Linked DNA regions of Homo sapiens. The protein of the gene in region 2 interacts with the protein of the main gene of each other region in a pairwise test. Each region holds a gene or a part of one and is shown on either strand. Other genes may lie near its edges.

Evidence for each region. Proteins that work in one complex are often made in the same cells at the same time.
Region 1: the proteins of CDC42EP3 (region 2) and COPE interact in binary tests that used the Homo sapiens proteins (3 or more experiments, as listed by UniProt).

The regions. Positions count from the first base shown.
Region 1 is NC_000019.10:18,909,388-18,916,412, reverse strand, and holds part of COPE (coatomer subunit epsilon), read left to right. Parts: intron 1-3,366; coding exon 3,367-3,429; intron 3,430-5,341; coding exon 5,342-5,442; intron 5,443-7,025. UniProt on the Homo sapiens protein: The coatomer is a cytosolic protein complex that binds to dilysine motifs and reversibly associates with Golgi non-clathrin-coated vesicles, which further mediate biosynthetic protein transport from the ER, via the Golgi up to the trans Golgi network.
Region 2 is NC_000002.12:37,661,627-37,668,651, reverse strand, and holds part of CDC42EP3 (cdc42 effector protein 3), read left to right. Parts: intron 1-7,025.

The sequences.
Region 1 (7,025 bases), on a different chromosome or scaffold from region 2:
CACAGTGCTGGGATTACAGGTGTGAGCCACCACGCCTGGCCAGGAATACTTTTTTTTTTTGAGACAGAGTCTAACTCTGTCACCCAGGCTGGAGTGCAGTGGCACAATCTCAGCTCACTGCATCCTCCGCCTCCTGGGTTCACACCATTCTCCTGCCTCAGCCTTCAGAGTAGCTGGGATTACAGGTGCCTGCCACCACGCCCAGCTAATTTTTGTTTTTTTGTTTTTGAGATGGAGTCTTGCTCTGTTGCCCAGGCTGGAGTGTAGTGGCATGATCTCAGCTCACCACAACCTCTGCCTCCTGGGTTCAAGCGATTCTCCTGCCTCAGCCTCCCGAGTAGGTGGGATTACAGGCGTGCGCCACCACACCTGGCTAATTTTTGAGGAATACATTTTTTAAGCCATCTGGTCTGTGGTAGTTCATGACAGTGGCCTGAGCAACCTCAGCCCCACCTGAGGTGGCCCCAGGGAGAGCACCTGGCAGTCTTTGCCCTTTGCTGCCCCCAGCACTAGGCTACCATCATGACGTTTCTGGGTTTCTGACATTTGCCAGTTTGCCCACAAGATGGCAGGCACCGCCCAGCTGTTGGGGTTGAAGCAGCTCATAGGCCTTGAGTTGCTGACGGCCCAGTGCGGTCAGATCACTGGCTACAGGGACAGAAGGGAGGAGTTACTACCCCCAAGGTTTCTGGCTACAGGGCCCCCATCCTGTCACCCGCCTTCCCAAACAGTACCCTGATTCCTCAACCATGGCCACATCTTAAGCCACCTGGGGCCAGTGCTGGGGCCATCCTAGGGCCAGGTGACCTTGGTGGATGTGGCCTCCTGGCTTTGGTGGTTCCTGGGCTCCCAGGTGATCGTAGTGAGCCCTTGGGGTTGAAGAGCAATGCTCTCCCACCCCGGGGACACACATGCGTCCTGATGGTAGGATCGTCCCTGGAAGTCGAGGAAAACCACAACGGTTCCAGAGCCTCACGTCAGGGTCACGGTCTGCACATTTGTTGTTGTTATGCTTCCCGGCACTCTTGTCTCTCCAGTGCACTCTGCAGCCTCTGAGCACTTCCGCACGCACAGTCTCCTGGGCACCTGCATTTCACACAGGGGCGGCTGAGGCCACCCTGGTGCCCCCGATGGCGCCCCACTGTGTCCTCACTTTGAAAGCCCAACAGCCAGCTTTTGTCTCTTTTTTTTCCCTAAAGATAGACAGGGTCTCACTCTGTCACCCAGGCCAGAGTGCAGTGCAGTGGCATGATCATAGTCCACTGTAGCCTCGACCTCCCAGGCTCAAGCGATCCTCCTTCATGAACCTCCTGAGTCGCTGGGACTACAGGTGCATGCTACCACACCTGGCTAATATTTATAATTTTTTTATGGACACAGGGTCTCAGACCGGGCACGGTGGCTCATGCCTGTAATCCCAGCACTTTGGGAGGCCGAGGCGGCTGGTTCACAAGGTCAGGAGTTCAAGACCAGCCTGGCCAATATGGTGAAACCCCATCTCTACTAAAAATACATATAGTCGCGGCTACTCGGGAGACTGAGGCAGAAAAATCTCTTGAACCCAGGCGGCAGAGGTTGTAGTGAGCCGAGATACACGCCACTGCACTCCAACCTGGGTGACAGAGCAAGACTCCATCAAAAAAAAAAAAAAAAAAAAGACTATGCTTTTTGCTATGTTGCCTATGCTGGTCTCAAACTCCTGGGCTCAAGCAGTGCTCCTGCTTTGGCCTCCCAAAGCACTGGGTTTACAGGTGTGAGCCACCACACCTGGCCTGTCTTTTTTAACTGAGGGTGGCATGTGGCCCTGGGCTAGTCACCTAACTGAAGTCCACCTCAGAAGGTTGATTGAGAGTTACTTATTTATTTTTTATTGAGATGGAGTCTTGCTCTGTCACCTAGGCTGGAGTGCAATGGCGTGATCTCGGCTTACTACAGCCTCTATCTCCCGGGTTCAAGTGATTCTCTTGCCTCAGCCTCCTGAGTAGCTGGGATTATAGGCGCCCGCCACCACACCTGGCTAATTTTTGTATTTTTAAGTAGAGGCGGGGTTTCACCATGTTGGCCAGGCTGGTCTGGAACTCCTGACCTCTAATGATCCACCCACTTCGGCCTCCCAAAGTGCTGGGATTACAGGCATGAGCTACCATGCCCGGCCTATAATATGTTTCTTTGCATACTTGAAAAGGTACATATTTCACCTGTCCATCCCATTTGCAGGTGGGGCTCGATTTCTGCAGCCACCACCCTCCGCATGCCTTTGACATTCTTCTAGGAGTTATTTATTTAGATGGCATCTTGTTCCAAATCATAGCCAGATACCCACTCTGGCTACCAGGGCCTGAGCAGAAGCTGCTGGGTCCTCTTGGCAATGGCAGCCTGAGTCAGGCTGGGGCCAGGTCTGCGGCGGCCTGGGATGAGGACACGTTTGACATCCACGCTCCTCCCTCAGGCTGGGGAGAAGGAAGAGATGTGGCTTGGAATCTGTGGTTCTCGGCTTCAGAGGACAGGGCAGAGTGACTCCCCCTGGTTTGGGCACTGGGTCCTTTGACCCTGTGCCTTGACAGCTGGCAGGCCCTCTTGCTGACAGCCTTCTCAGTCCCCTCTGTTTAGAGGTTGTTGGAGTGGCGATGCCAAGGTGGCTGGGCCCCTTCCCAACTGTACTTTCCTCTCGAAGCCCCCAGGGGCCTGGGCGAGCACCCTCAGGCCATGGGCTGAGCTGCACTGTGCCCACCTGCCATGGGCACCCTGGGAAGTCAGCCAGCCTCCGGGGGCAGCATGCAAAGCTGTGTTCTGGAGAGCGGTCCCAGCCTCCCTCCCTGGCCTGGGCTCAGGGGCAGCTTCATTATCATCCCAAAATGGATGTTGCCACAGGTTACCTCCCTCTTGCTCCTCAGTTCTGTGCAATGGCTGGGCTGTGGGGGTGTGGCCCAAGTACAGAGCCATTCCCAGGGTCTCCCCTGGCCAGGGCTGGGCACAGATGTCACCACACTGGGGCAGCCAAACTGAGCTCAAAATGTCTTGAGACAAAAGCAGAACAGAATCAAGCCACAGTGGCCCCATGTCCAGAGGTTAGAGGTGCGGGTGCCACCCTGGCTTCTTAAGTGTGACTGGGGCAGACACTGAACTTGGGAGCAAGCCTCCTTCCTGGGGTGGTGTCAGCGCGGGATGAGATCAGGCACCCCCCGTGTAGGGTACCCCCAGCAGAGGCCACTCGGGCTACGGAGGATCAGGGCTGGGACTCAGACCTCCAACCCTGCCGGAGAAGCCACCTGTCCCCAGTGTACAGGGGCCTGTCTGTCATGCTCACCCTGTGTGGGCTGCGCTGGGCCTCCCACTGTGCGTCCTGACTCACATTGGTTCCCACAGCTATCAAGCCCAGAGAGAGACGTGGAGAGGGACGTCTTCCTGTATAGAGCGTACCTGGCGCAGGTGAGTGCGGGCCTTGGCCGGGGGCAAGAGTGATGAACAGAGTAGAGGGTGGGGCTGGGGACAGGAAGGCACCACAGAGTGGGTGGCGGGGACAGTAAACAAAGCAGGGACCCAGGCCTGCAGTGTTCAGTGACTGTGAACAGCCAGCGCAGCCAGCATGTGAAGGTGGCTGTGTCACGGAGGCCTGAGACTGCCAGGCCAGGGGGCCTGGGTCACAGCTTCTTGATTTTTTTTTTTTTTTTTTTGAGACGGAGTCTCACTCTGTCGTACTCGATCTCAGCTCACTGCAACCTCCGTCTCCTGGGTTCAAGTGATTCTCCTGTCTCAGCCTCCCAAGTAGCTGGGACTACAGGCGTGCGCCACCACGCCTGGCTAATTTTTATATTTTTAATAAACACGTGGTTTCACCACATTAGCCAGGGTGGTCTTGAACTCCTGACTTCATGATCCACCTGCCTCAGCCTCCCAAAGTGCTGAGATTACAGGCGTGAGCCAACGCGCCCAGCCGATTTTTTTTTTTTTCCTAAAATAATTGGTAGGAGCCAGGCACAGTGGCTCACACCTGTAATCTTTGGGAGGCTGAGGTGGGAGGATCACTTGAAGCCAGGAGTTCAAGACCAGCCTGGGCAACATAGTGAGACCCCCGTCTCTACAAAAAAAAATTAAAAAATAAGACAGTCATGGTGGCATGTGCCTGGAGTCCCAGCTAATTGGGAGGCTGTGGCAGGAGGATCAGTTGAGCCCAGGAGGTCAAGATTACAGTGAGCCGTGATCACGCCATTGCACTCCAGCCTGGACAACATAGCAAGACCTTGTCTCTAAAAAAATAAGAATGGGGGCTGGGCCCGGTGGTTCACGCCTGTAATCCCAGCACTTTGGGAGGCCAAGGCGGGCAGATCACCTGAGGTCAGGAGTTCGAGACCAGCCTCAACATGGAGAAACCCTGTCTCTACTAAAAATACAGAATTAGCCAGGTGTGGTGGTGCATGCCTGTAATCCCAGCTACTTGGGAGGCTGAGGCAGGAGAATTACTTGAACCTGGGAGGCAGAGGTTTCGGTGAGCTGAGGTCACAGCATTACACTCCAGCCTGGGCACCAAGAGCGAAACTCCATCTCAAAAAAAAAAAAAAAAGGCCGGGCGTGGTGGCTCACACCTGTAATCCCAGCATTTTGGGAGGCCAAGGTGGGTGGATCACAAGGTCAGGAGATTGAGACCATCCTGGCTAACACAGTGAAACCCCGTCTCTACTAAAAATACAAAAAAATTAGCCGGGCGTGGTGGCGGGCGCCTGTAGTCTCAGCTACTCGGGAGGCTGAGGCAGGAGAATGGTGTGAACCTGGGAGGTGGAGCTTGCAGTGAGCCGAGATCACGCCACTGCACTCCAGCCTGGGCGACAGAGCGAGACTCCGTCTCGAAAAAAAAAAAAATGGGGAAGGAACCATCTAGGAGGGAACACAATGAGGGACGGGCCCCCAGCTGCAGATGTGACAGTGGTATCAGTCTGGGCATCCTCAGAGGGCCAGTAGGTGGGCAGGGCTGGCTGGGGGCATGTCCTGCTTTATAGAAGCGCATGTCACAACCCCCATAACTGCTGCTGCCCTGCCCCCAGGTGACACGCCCTTCACCTCACCACCAGAGGTGGACAGCTGCCAGGGGATAGACAGTAACCTACCAGGGTCCCTAGCTCAAGGCATGGGCAGTGTGGCCCTGCAGATGAGGGCACACCTGGCTGCTCACGACAGGTGACGCCATGCCACCCTCCACAGTGTACTGCAGTGGAGGTGGCCCATGCTGGGCTGAGGGGTCCCTGGTGGGGCAGGGACTTCCTGTCTGGGGCTCTCCCTGCCAAGCTGAAGACATGGAAATCCTCTGGGGTGGACGGGTGCAGCTGACGCCTCGTCCCTACTGCAGAGGAAGTTCGGTGTGGTCCTGGATGAGATCAAGCCCTCCTCGGCCCCTGAGCTCCAGGCCGTGCGCATGTTTGCTGACTACCTCGCCCACGAGAGTCGGAGGTGAGGCCCCAGAGAATGGGTTGGCCTGAGGCGCGGGGCCATCTTCAAGGCCTGTTGGTTATGAACCTGGGTGGGTGGGGGCATGGCGTGCAGCGCACAGCATCCCTCAGATTAGGCGCCTCTCCCCTCTGCTCCCCTGCTGCTTTGTGCCTCAGTTTCCCTCACCTGCACAGCAGTGGGGGGCTGGTGATGGATCCTGCTTCAAAGGGGAGGGTCAGAGACAGTGCTGTGTGTGCACACGCCCTCATGGACCACAAGGCACTCTCTGAACCTAGAACTGAAAATATCAATTACCGAGCAGCCCTCTGCAACACCCAGAGCCCCAAGACAGCCCAGGGCGCAGCGGGGGCAGGGCCCTCCCATCAGTTTTCTTATTTATTTATTTAGAGATGGAGTCTCACTCTGTCACCAGGCTGGAGTTGCAGTGGTGAGATCTCGGCTCACTGCAACCTCTGCCTCCTGGGTTCAAGTGATTCTTGTGCCTCAGCCTCCTGAGTAGCTACGACTATAGCTGCGTGCCACCACGTCCAGCTAATTTTTGTATTTTAGCAGAGACTGGGTTTCACCGTGTTGCCCAGGGTGGTCTCGAACTCCTGAGCTCAGGCGGTCTGCCCACCTCAGCCTCCCAAATCCTATCAGTTTTCTAGTCCCAGCTAGTTGGGGACTGCAACCTGCCAGTATCTCCCCTGGAGCCCAGTGGGAGGGTGGGTGAGGCCACGCCTGTCCTGCCCCTGAGCCACAGGCCAGCGTTGGTCAAACGCCCATGGGCGGCAGCCAAGGGGAGAGGGGGCTGGGCTGTGGGGACCCAGGAACCTTGCCCCCTCCTGCTGTGGGGTCGGAGTGAGGGTCTGGCATGGGGAGACTGCTGTGATCCTGCTCTTCCTTGGCCCACGGAGGCAGTGTCCCAACTACCGCCTCCCTTCACTCAAAGAAACCTGGGGTTCCTGGGAGCTGACTCCTGTGCAGAGGCAGCATGGTGGGGTGAATGGTGTCCCCCAAAAGGTACGTCCATATCCTATCCCACATGCTTGTGAATATGATATCATTTGGAAAAAGGGTCTTTGCCGATCAGATTAAGAGATAAGGAGATGAAGACATGCTGGATTTAGGGTGGGCCCCAAAGCCAAGGACTTGTGTCCTTTTAAGAGATAAAAGGAGGGCTGGGTGCAGTGGCTCATACTTGTAATCCCAGCACTTTGGGAGGACGAGGTGGGCAGATCACCTGAGGTCAGGAGTTTTCAAGACCAGCCTGGCCAACGTGGTGAAACCCCATTTCTATTAAAAATACAGAATTAACAGGATGTGATGTCTGTGATTCCAGCTACTTGGGAGGCTGAGGCAGGAGAATCGCTTGAACCTGGCAGGCAGAGGTTGCAGTGAGCCAAGATCGCACTAGTGCACTCCAGCCTGGGTGACAGCGGGAGACTGTCTTAAAAAAAAAAAAAAAAAAAGGAAAGAGGCCCACAGAGTTAAGCCCATGTGACAACAGACTGGAGTGACATGTCTGCTAGCCAAGGAGCACCACGAGTGGCCAGCAGCCACCAGAGCTGGGAGAGAGGCCTGGGACGGCCTTGCCCTCCAGC
Region 2 (7,025 bases):
CGTGTGCAGTTTAACAACACAATATGTGCAGGCATGAGTGGCTAATCCTATGTGAAAGTCAGCAGCTCTTTGGGTTAAGGGGATGGGAAAAAAAACTGAACTTCTGAAGCCTCCGAGTCAGGCTGCCTGGGCACATGTCCTAGTTCTGGCACTTAACACCTGTGTGACTTTGGGCAAGTTACCTCACCTTTACCTCAGTTTATCCTTTGTAAAATGGAGATAATATTATTTCCCTGAGGATTAAAGGAGTTAAAAAAGATTATGTACTCAGAACAGTGCCTGGCCCAGAGTAGCCACAATAAAAGGTTGAGGTTTTCAATGTTGCTTTTGTTTTTTTCCTAGGTACTTAATACTGGTTCTGTCATGTAATATTCATAACTATTCTTTGAGAGAGATAGTACAGTGGTCCCCAATTACCCGTGGTTTTCTTTTCCAGGGTTTCAGTTACCCATAGTCAACCATGGTCTGAAAATAGGTGAATATGGGGCATTTTAAGAAAGAAAGAGACCATATTCATGTAATTTTTATTACATTGTTATAATTATTCTATTGTTAATCTCTTACTGTGCCTACTTTACAAATTAAACTTTATAACAGGTATGTATGTATAAAAAACAACATAGTATATATGGGGTTCAGTACTGTCCAAGGTTCAGGCACCCACTGGGGGTCTTGGAACATATCCGTGGAGGATAAGGCAGACTATTATATTGCTCTTCTTTTCCAGATGAGAACACAGGCTCAGAAAGGTTTAGTAACGTGGCCAAGGTCACACAGCTAAATAGCAGAAGCAGGGTTTGAACTCAGGTCTTTTTGACCTTATACTAAATACCACACCCCCACCAATGGGGAGGAGGGGCAGAGAAGTTGTTAAATCTGATTTTTGTTATGACTTTTGGCCTCTGGCAAGGAAATAATTTCATATCACCCTGTATCTCACAGTTGAAGATGACAGTAATTGCCAGCCTTGAGGAACACTATGTAAATTATTTTATTATTAAAGATGATTCAATCCCACATATGTGGCATGAAAGTGGATCTAGCATGAACACTGCTAGGGTTAACATAAGCAGTTTAATTTATGCCATAAACGAAGAGATTTACTAGGTGAAAATGTGGGACTATATGGTGAGAAAGCAAGCCAAGCCACAGCCAGGGACAAGGACTTCTGGTGGCTGGGGATGAAGTGAAGCTCTAGCATAGACTGTGTGCTCGCTTCAAAATTCTGGGGAGCCCGGGGTTGCAGAGTCCAGTAACCACCTGTGGACAATCCCCTCCTTGAAGGCAGGAACCACACTACCTGGGCCTTCAGTCCCGGCACTCAGTGGACGTTTTAGTCCATGTTTGTTGATGATGTTGCTGCAAGAACTCAGCAGAAGAGGAGCTACAGGTAAAGTGAACAGAAAGGCACTGGGCTGTGTCCATGGCAGAAGTCAAGCCCTGTTACAGTTCAGCATATCCCCTGGGCCCTGCTAGATAAGAAACACACAACAAGGAAACCTTTGAAACCTTGTCCTTACTGCTTGCCCCGGAAAACCCACAGGGCCTGCCTTGGCCTCCACTGCTTTGATGCTCTGGGTTTGTGATTAGCTGTGGGGATCAGCTCCAGAGACTTCTCAGATGGAAACAGGGTTCTGGAAAGGACAGTCCGAAGTAACTCAGGTAGCCTCAAAGCCAATGGTTACAGTCTTGGAGCTGTCCAATTCCATTTGAAATCTTCTCCTGTCCCCACCTCTTAAAGGCTACAAAACAAAACAATACCCCACAAACCAGAATAAGTAGCCATGTAGTTCTAAAGCAATAGTCAGGTGTGTTTCTTTCCTTAAAAAAAAAAAAAAGCTTTCTCCTTGATATACTTCAGTGCCAAGTTTCATCAGAATCACATGATGATGGACTGAATTTGACAGTACCTCTGGTAGAAAAGCAGTTTTCAAATTTTAACCATACAGTTTTATAATACAAAGCATGATGCTGAGATTTAAAAGATTACTATTTCTAAATAGCCAAGTAAACTGTGTGAAAGCTGATGAGTTCCAAACTAGTGTTTGCTTAGTCCTTACTGCTTGCCTAAGTCATGAATTAATAGAATTCTAGAATCCCAAATTTAAAACTTTTTAAAAAGGATTTTCAGTGGATTGGGTTTTATTTCCATATTGGATAAAGTTATTATTAGCCTTCTAGCCTTTGGCCCTTTGTTAAACCATGTTGCAGAGATCACACACCTGCAATTAGGTAACAGGGTACCGCCTAAAGTGTACCTCGAGCCATGAATGTCATAAAAGTATTCTGTGGGACCCCAGTTTGATGAAGGTCCCTTTCTGCAGGACTTCTCAGAACATTTAAAAAGCCAGTGTATATAGTGAATCTCCACAGGGAGGTCGTGTCCAGAGTTTCTCAAATGGTTTTGCCCACTGAGCAGCTGCAGGACCAGCCTGGCAGGAAACACACTCTGGGAAACACAGAACAGAAGCTACATAACCGCAGTATGTCCTACAGAGCCGAAGCAACCCAGGGACATTTTAGTTAGAGAACCACAGGCGTTACAGGAAGAGAGCGATGAGGATGTACCAGGAGATCCTGGCAAACGCTGATAAAACTAATGGAGAATTAAGTGAGGGCAATCAAAAGGGGTGTCTGTGTGTAGAAATAGAGATTAAAAAAATACCAATTCTGGTCTTAGCTCTGACCCAAATTGTATAACCTTGACCTCTTGGGGTTTTCTTGTTCTCATCCCTAAAACGTAGCATTTGGTGAGAGATGATCTCAGATAATCTCTGGCTCCAGAACAGTGAGCCAGGATCAGTGGCACCTATTAGCATAGCTATCTTACTACTAATAATGTAAGACTCTGGGTTGAAAAACAGACCCGTGCAGATCTCTGGCAGAGCAGCCTGAGCAAGCGTGGAAGGCAGGGAACTTCCAAGTCAGGCCTCTATTTAGACAGCTTCCACATTTGGGAATCCGTCATGTTCTGGTGACAACCTGAAGGTCCTATTTGTAGACACATCATGCCAATGATAGATCGTTGTCATGAGTTTAGTTGAAAAAGAGCTTTTCTGTCCAAATACATCATAATCATTTAGGCTACATACATTTTTTAAAACAAGCAGAGGCATTTTTGGTGAAATGTGGCTTTGCCATTCAGAATGTGTTTGATTTCTCAACCTTTTTATTTATTTTTTAAACTTTTGTTTTGCCAAGGGTCAGTTCAGACTTAAAACATTGATTTTAACACAGCGGGAGATGAGGCTCTAAGCCTTTGGCTGACCAGCTAGTCAGAAAACAAATCCTTCCCCTTCTCTGGGCAGGCTCCATCCCATCACCTGTGAAAAAAAATGGCAGAGTGGGAGGGTGGGGATGGGAAGGGAGGCCAGAGAAGTGTGTGGATGTTCCCCAGGCCCTCTCCTGGCCCTAAACTGTGATTCTGTTCCTCTTTTTTCTTGTATCAGAGGCATTTCCATAGTGTCTTGTATCTTCTCCTATTGTAACACTTACTACATTTAAGTTATCTTTATATATATATAAAGGGGAGTTTATTAAGGAATGTTGACTCACATGATCATAAGGTGAAATCCAGTAATAGGCCTAACTTTTAGGTCCGGGGCTACATGTGCAGGTTTGTTACGGAGGTAAACTCATGTCACGGGGTTTTGATGTACAGATCATTTCATCACCTAGGTACTAAGCATAGTACCTGATCATTAGTCTTTCTGATCCTCTCCCTCCTCCCGCCCTTCCCCCTCAATTAGGCCCCAGTGTCTGTTGTTTCCCTCTTTGTGTCCATTTGTTCTCATTTAGCTCCCACTTACAAGTGAGCACATGCGGTATTTGGTTTTCTGCTCCTGCGTCAGTTTGCTAAGACTAATGGCCTCCAACTCCATCCATGTTCCTGATTGACGCAAGTGCCTGCCTAATTAGACTACCGGCTCCTCAAGGATAGGGACTGAATCTCATTTATCTTGTCATTCATCTTTGCTGCAGTAGGACTTAATGACAAAGTGGGCAGTATAGCCCTTGCTATACTATCTGATTCTTTCTGTAGCATATCTCCTCAGTTGTTGTCAGGTCAGAAATCTTTGTCGCTTACTTGCTGTATTAGTCAGGGTTCTCTAGAGGGACAAGACTAACAGGATAGATGTATATATAAAGGGGAGTTTATTAAGGAGTGTTGACTCACATGATCATAAGGTGAAATCCCATAATAGGCTGTCTGCAAGCTGAGGAACAAGGAAGTTAGTCCAAGTCCCAAAACCTCAAAAATAGGGAAGCCAACAGTGCAGCCTTCAGTCTGTGACCAAAGGCCTGAGAGCCTTCTGGCAAACCACTGGTGTAAGTCCAGGTCCAAAAACTGAAGAACTTGGAGTCTGATGTGTGAGGGCAGGAAGCATCCAGCACGGGAGAAAAATGAAGGCCAGAAGACTCAGAAAGTCTAGTCCTTCCACGTTCCTCTGCCTGCTTGTTTTGTTTTGTTTTGTTTTGAGATGGAGTCTCACTCTGTCGCCCAGGCTGGAGTGCAGTGGCGCAGTCTCGGCTCACTGCAAGCTCCGCCTCCCAGGTTCACGCCATTCTCCTGCCTCAGCCTCCCAAGTAGCTGGGACTACAGGCACCCTCCACAACGACCGGCTAATTTTTTGTATGTTTAATAGAGACGGGGCTTCACCGCCTTAGCCAGGATGGTTTCCATCTCCTGATCTCATGATCTGCCCGCCTCAGCCTCCCAAAGTGCTGGGATTACAGGCATGAGCCACCGCGCCCGGCCTCCTCTGCCTGCTTTTATCCTAGCCACGCTGGCAGCTGATTAGATGGTGCCCACCCAGATTGAGGATGGGTCTGTGTCTCCCAATTCACCGACTCAAATGTTAATCTCCTTTGGCAACACCCTCACAGACACACCCAGGAACAATACTTTGCATCCTTCCATCAAGTCGACACTCAGTATTAACCACCACACTAGCTTATTTTTAAGTCCTGCTGTAGTAAAGTTACTCCTTCCCAGGCTACAGAACATTCAAATGCAAGGGGAGTCACCCCAGTCATTTGGTTGTGGTGATAGAGATCATCTGCGGGCCCTGTGGAAATAGGTCAAGCCCCTGCTGGAACCTTCTCAAGATCTCCGCGGAGAGATTGGCAACCCCCACCAATGCTTTCTCGTGCCCTGGGAGTGACTGAGGCAACTTGGCACCCATGTGTCCACTTAGAGCACAGAGTAAGGGTCCTTGTATTTCCTATTGCTGCCTAGACCTCTCGCCAGCCATTAACGAATAAATAAACATGAGCCATTTATTTATTTGTTATATTAGCGTCAGTCTCTCCACAGTGGAGTGCATCATTGCTGCGGCCTCAACTTCTAGAATAGTGCCTGGCACTTAGTAGGCCCTCCATGGATGTTTGTTGTTGAACACATGAGGGACCAGCCAGGGGCTGGGGAGGCACATGGAAGGTTGGTTTGTTTTTTTTGTTTTGTTTTGTTTTGTTTTGTTTTTGAGACCGAGTTTCACTCACTCAGTTGCCCAGGCCAGAGTGCAGTGGCACAGTCTTGGCTTACTACAACCTCTGCCTCCCGGGTTCAAGAGATTCTCCTGCCTCAGCCTCATGAGTAGCTGGGATTACAGGCACCCGCCACCACACCCAGCTAATTTTTGTATCTTTAGTAGAGACTGGCTTTCACCGTGTTGGCCAGACTGGTCACGAACTCCTAACCTCAGGCGATCCGCCCGCCTCGGCCTCCCAAAGTGCTGGGATCACAGGTGTGAGCCACCGCACCTGACTGTGAAAGGCTTTCTAAAGCTGGCTTCCCATGGGTTGAACTGGCGAGAGGCACATGGCTCACTCTGTGCATGTCGCAGCACCAACTAGAGCCTGTTTTCTTGCTCTCAGACGGCTTCAGAATGAAATGTCTTCCTAAAGAGTGTTGATTTTTGGCCTTCTATTAAGTTTAGTGTAAGTTTATGCTGGTGATGGGGATTTGTTTTATATTCCTTGTGGGCTCACCCTGGGATGGTGGTGCTTTACTTGCCAGCCTGGGGGAGTGAGGTTCAGAGAGAGGTCTCTCAGGGTGGTGCAGGGAGTAAAGCAGGGACTTCTTTCAAATTCCGTTCTTTTTTCAGAATGGGGAATTAGACTATTGAACCCAGAACATTTGGGAGTTTTTCACACTGTATTTAAAACAATCAGTTTAGGTGGCCAGATCCCAAGGTCTAAAAGGAGTAAGGTTAAAAGGAATCCCCACCATGAGCTTCCAGCTCATCTTCTTCCTTATGCAGCTCCAGCTTTTTGGGGTAATTTATAATGAACATTACCCCTTCCATTGATATGGGCTCATTGCCTGCCAGGTGCTTTGCCAAGCACTTTATGCTCGTTGTTACCCAGGAAGACTCCCACCTTTGCCATTTGCACTTCACAGATGGGGACACTGAAGCTCCCAAAGGGAGTCACTACATGGCTCAGGACCCTTAATTTAATACCAGGAAGGATGGGAAAGGGTGATGAAAATTGTATTCGCTGGTAAAAAGTATTTTGATTCTAAGGCTAGTCTTACTTTCCTTAAAAACATTACTTTTTTTTTTTCTTTTTTGGAAACTTCCTAGACGCTAGATGTTTCTGCAAATAGAATCACAGAGCCCTACCATTTGACAGATGGAAGGGACCTTATCTCAGCCCCAGTCTCATTCTGACATGATAAAACCAAGGCCTTAAGTGTTTAAGTGACACAGAGCATGAATCTTCCTCCTAGGCCCAGCTCTGTCGAACTTTTTTTTAAGCCAAGGAAAAGAAAATCTTAAGCCTGATATATAAACAGATAATAACATAATTTCTTTGGTTAAAAAGGAGAGAGATTGGCCCTACTTATCACGTATTTAAGAAAATAACAACATGCCCTTTTGTTTTTTCTCTTCTCTCATACATCACTAATTCTGGTGGGGTCTGTCCAGAGTCCGTCAGATGGCTATGACTTTTTCAGCCACCTCCTCGTGCTGTCAGCTCCCGGTAGCCTTGCCGTCCAGTTTATAACGCCAGCAGCCAGA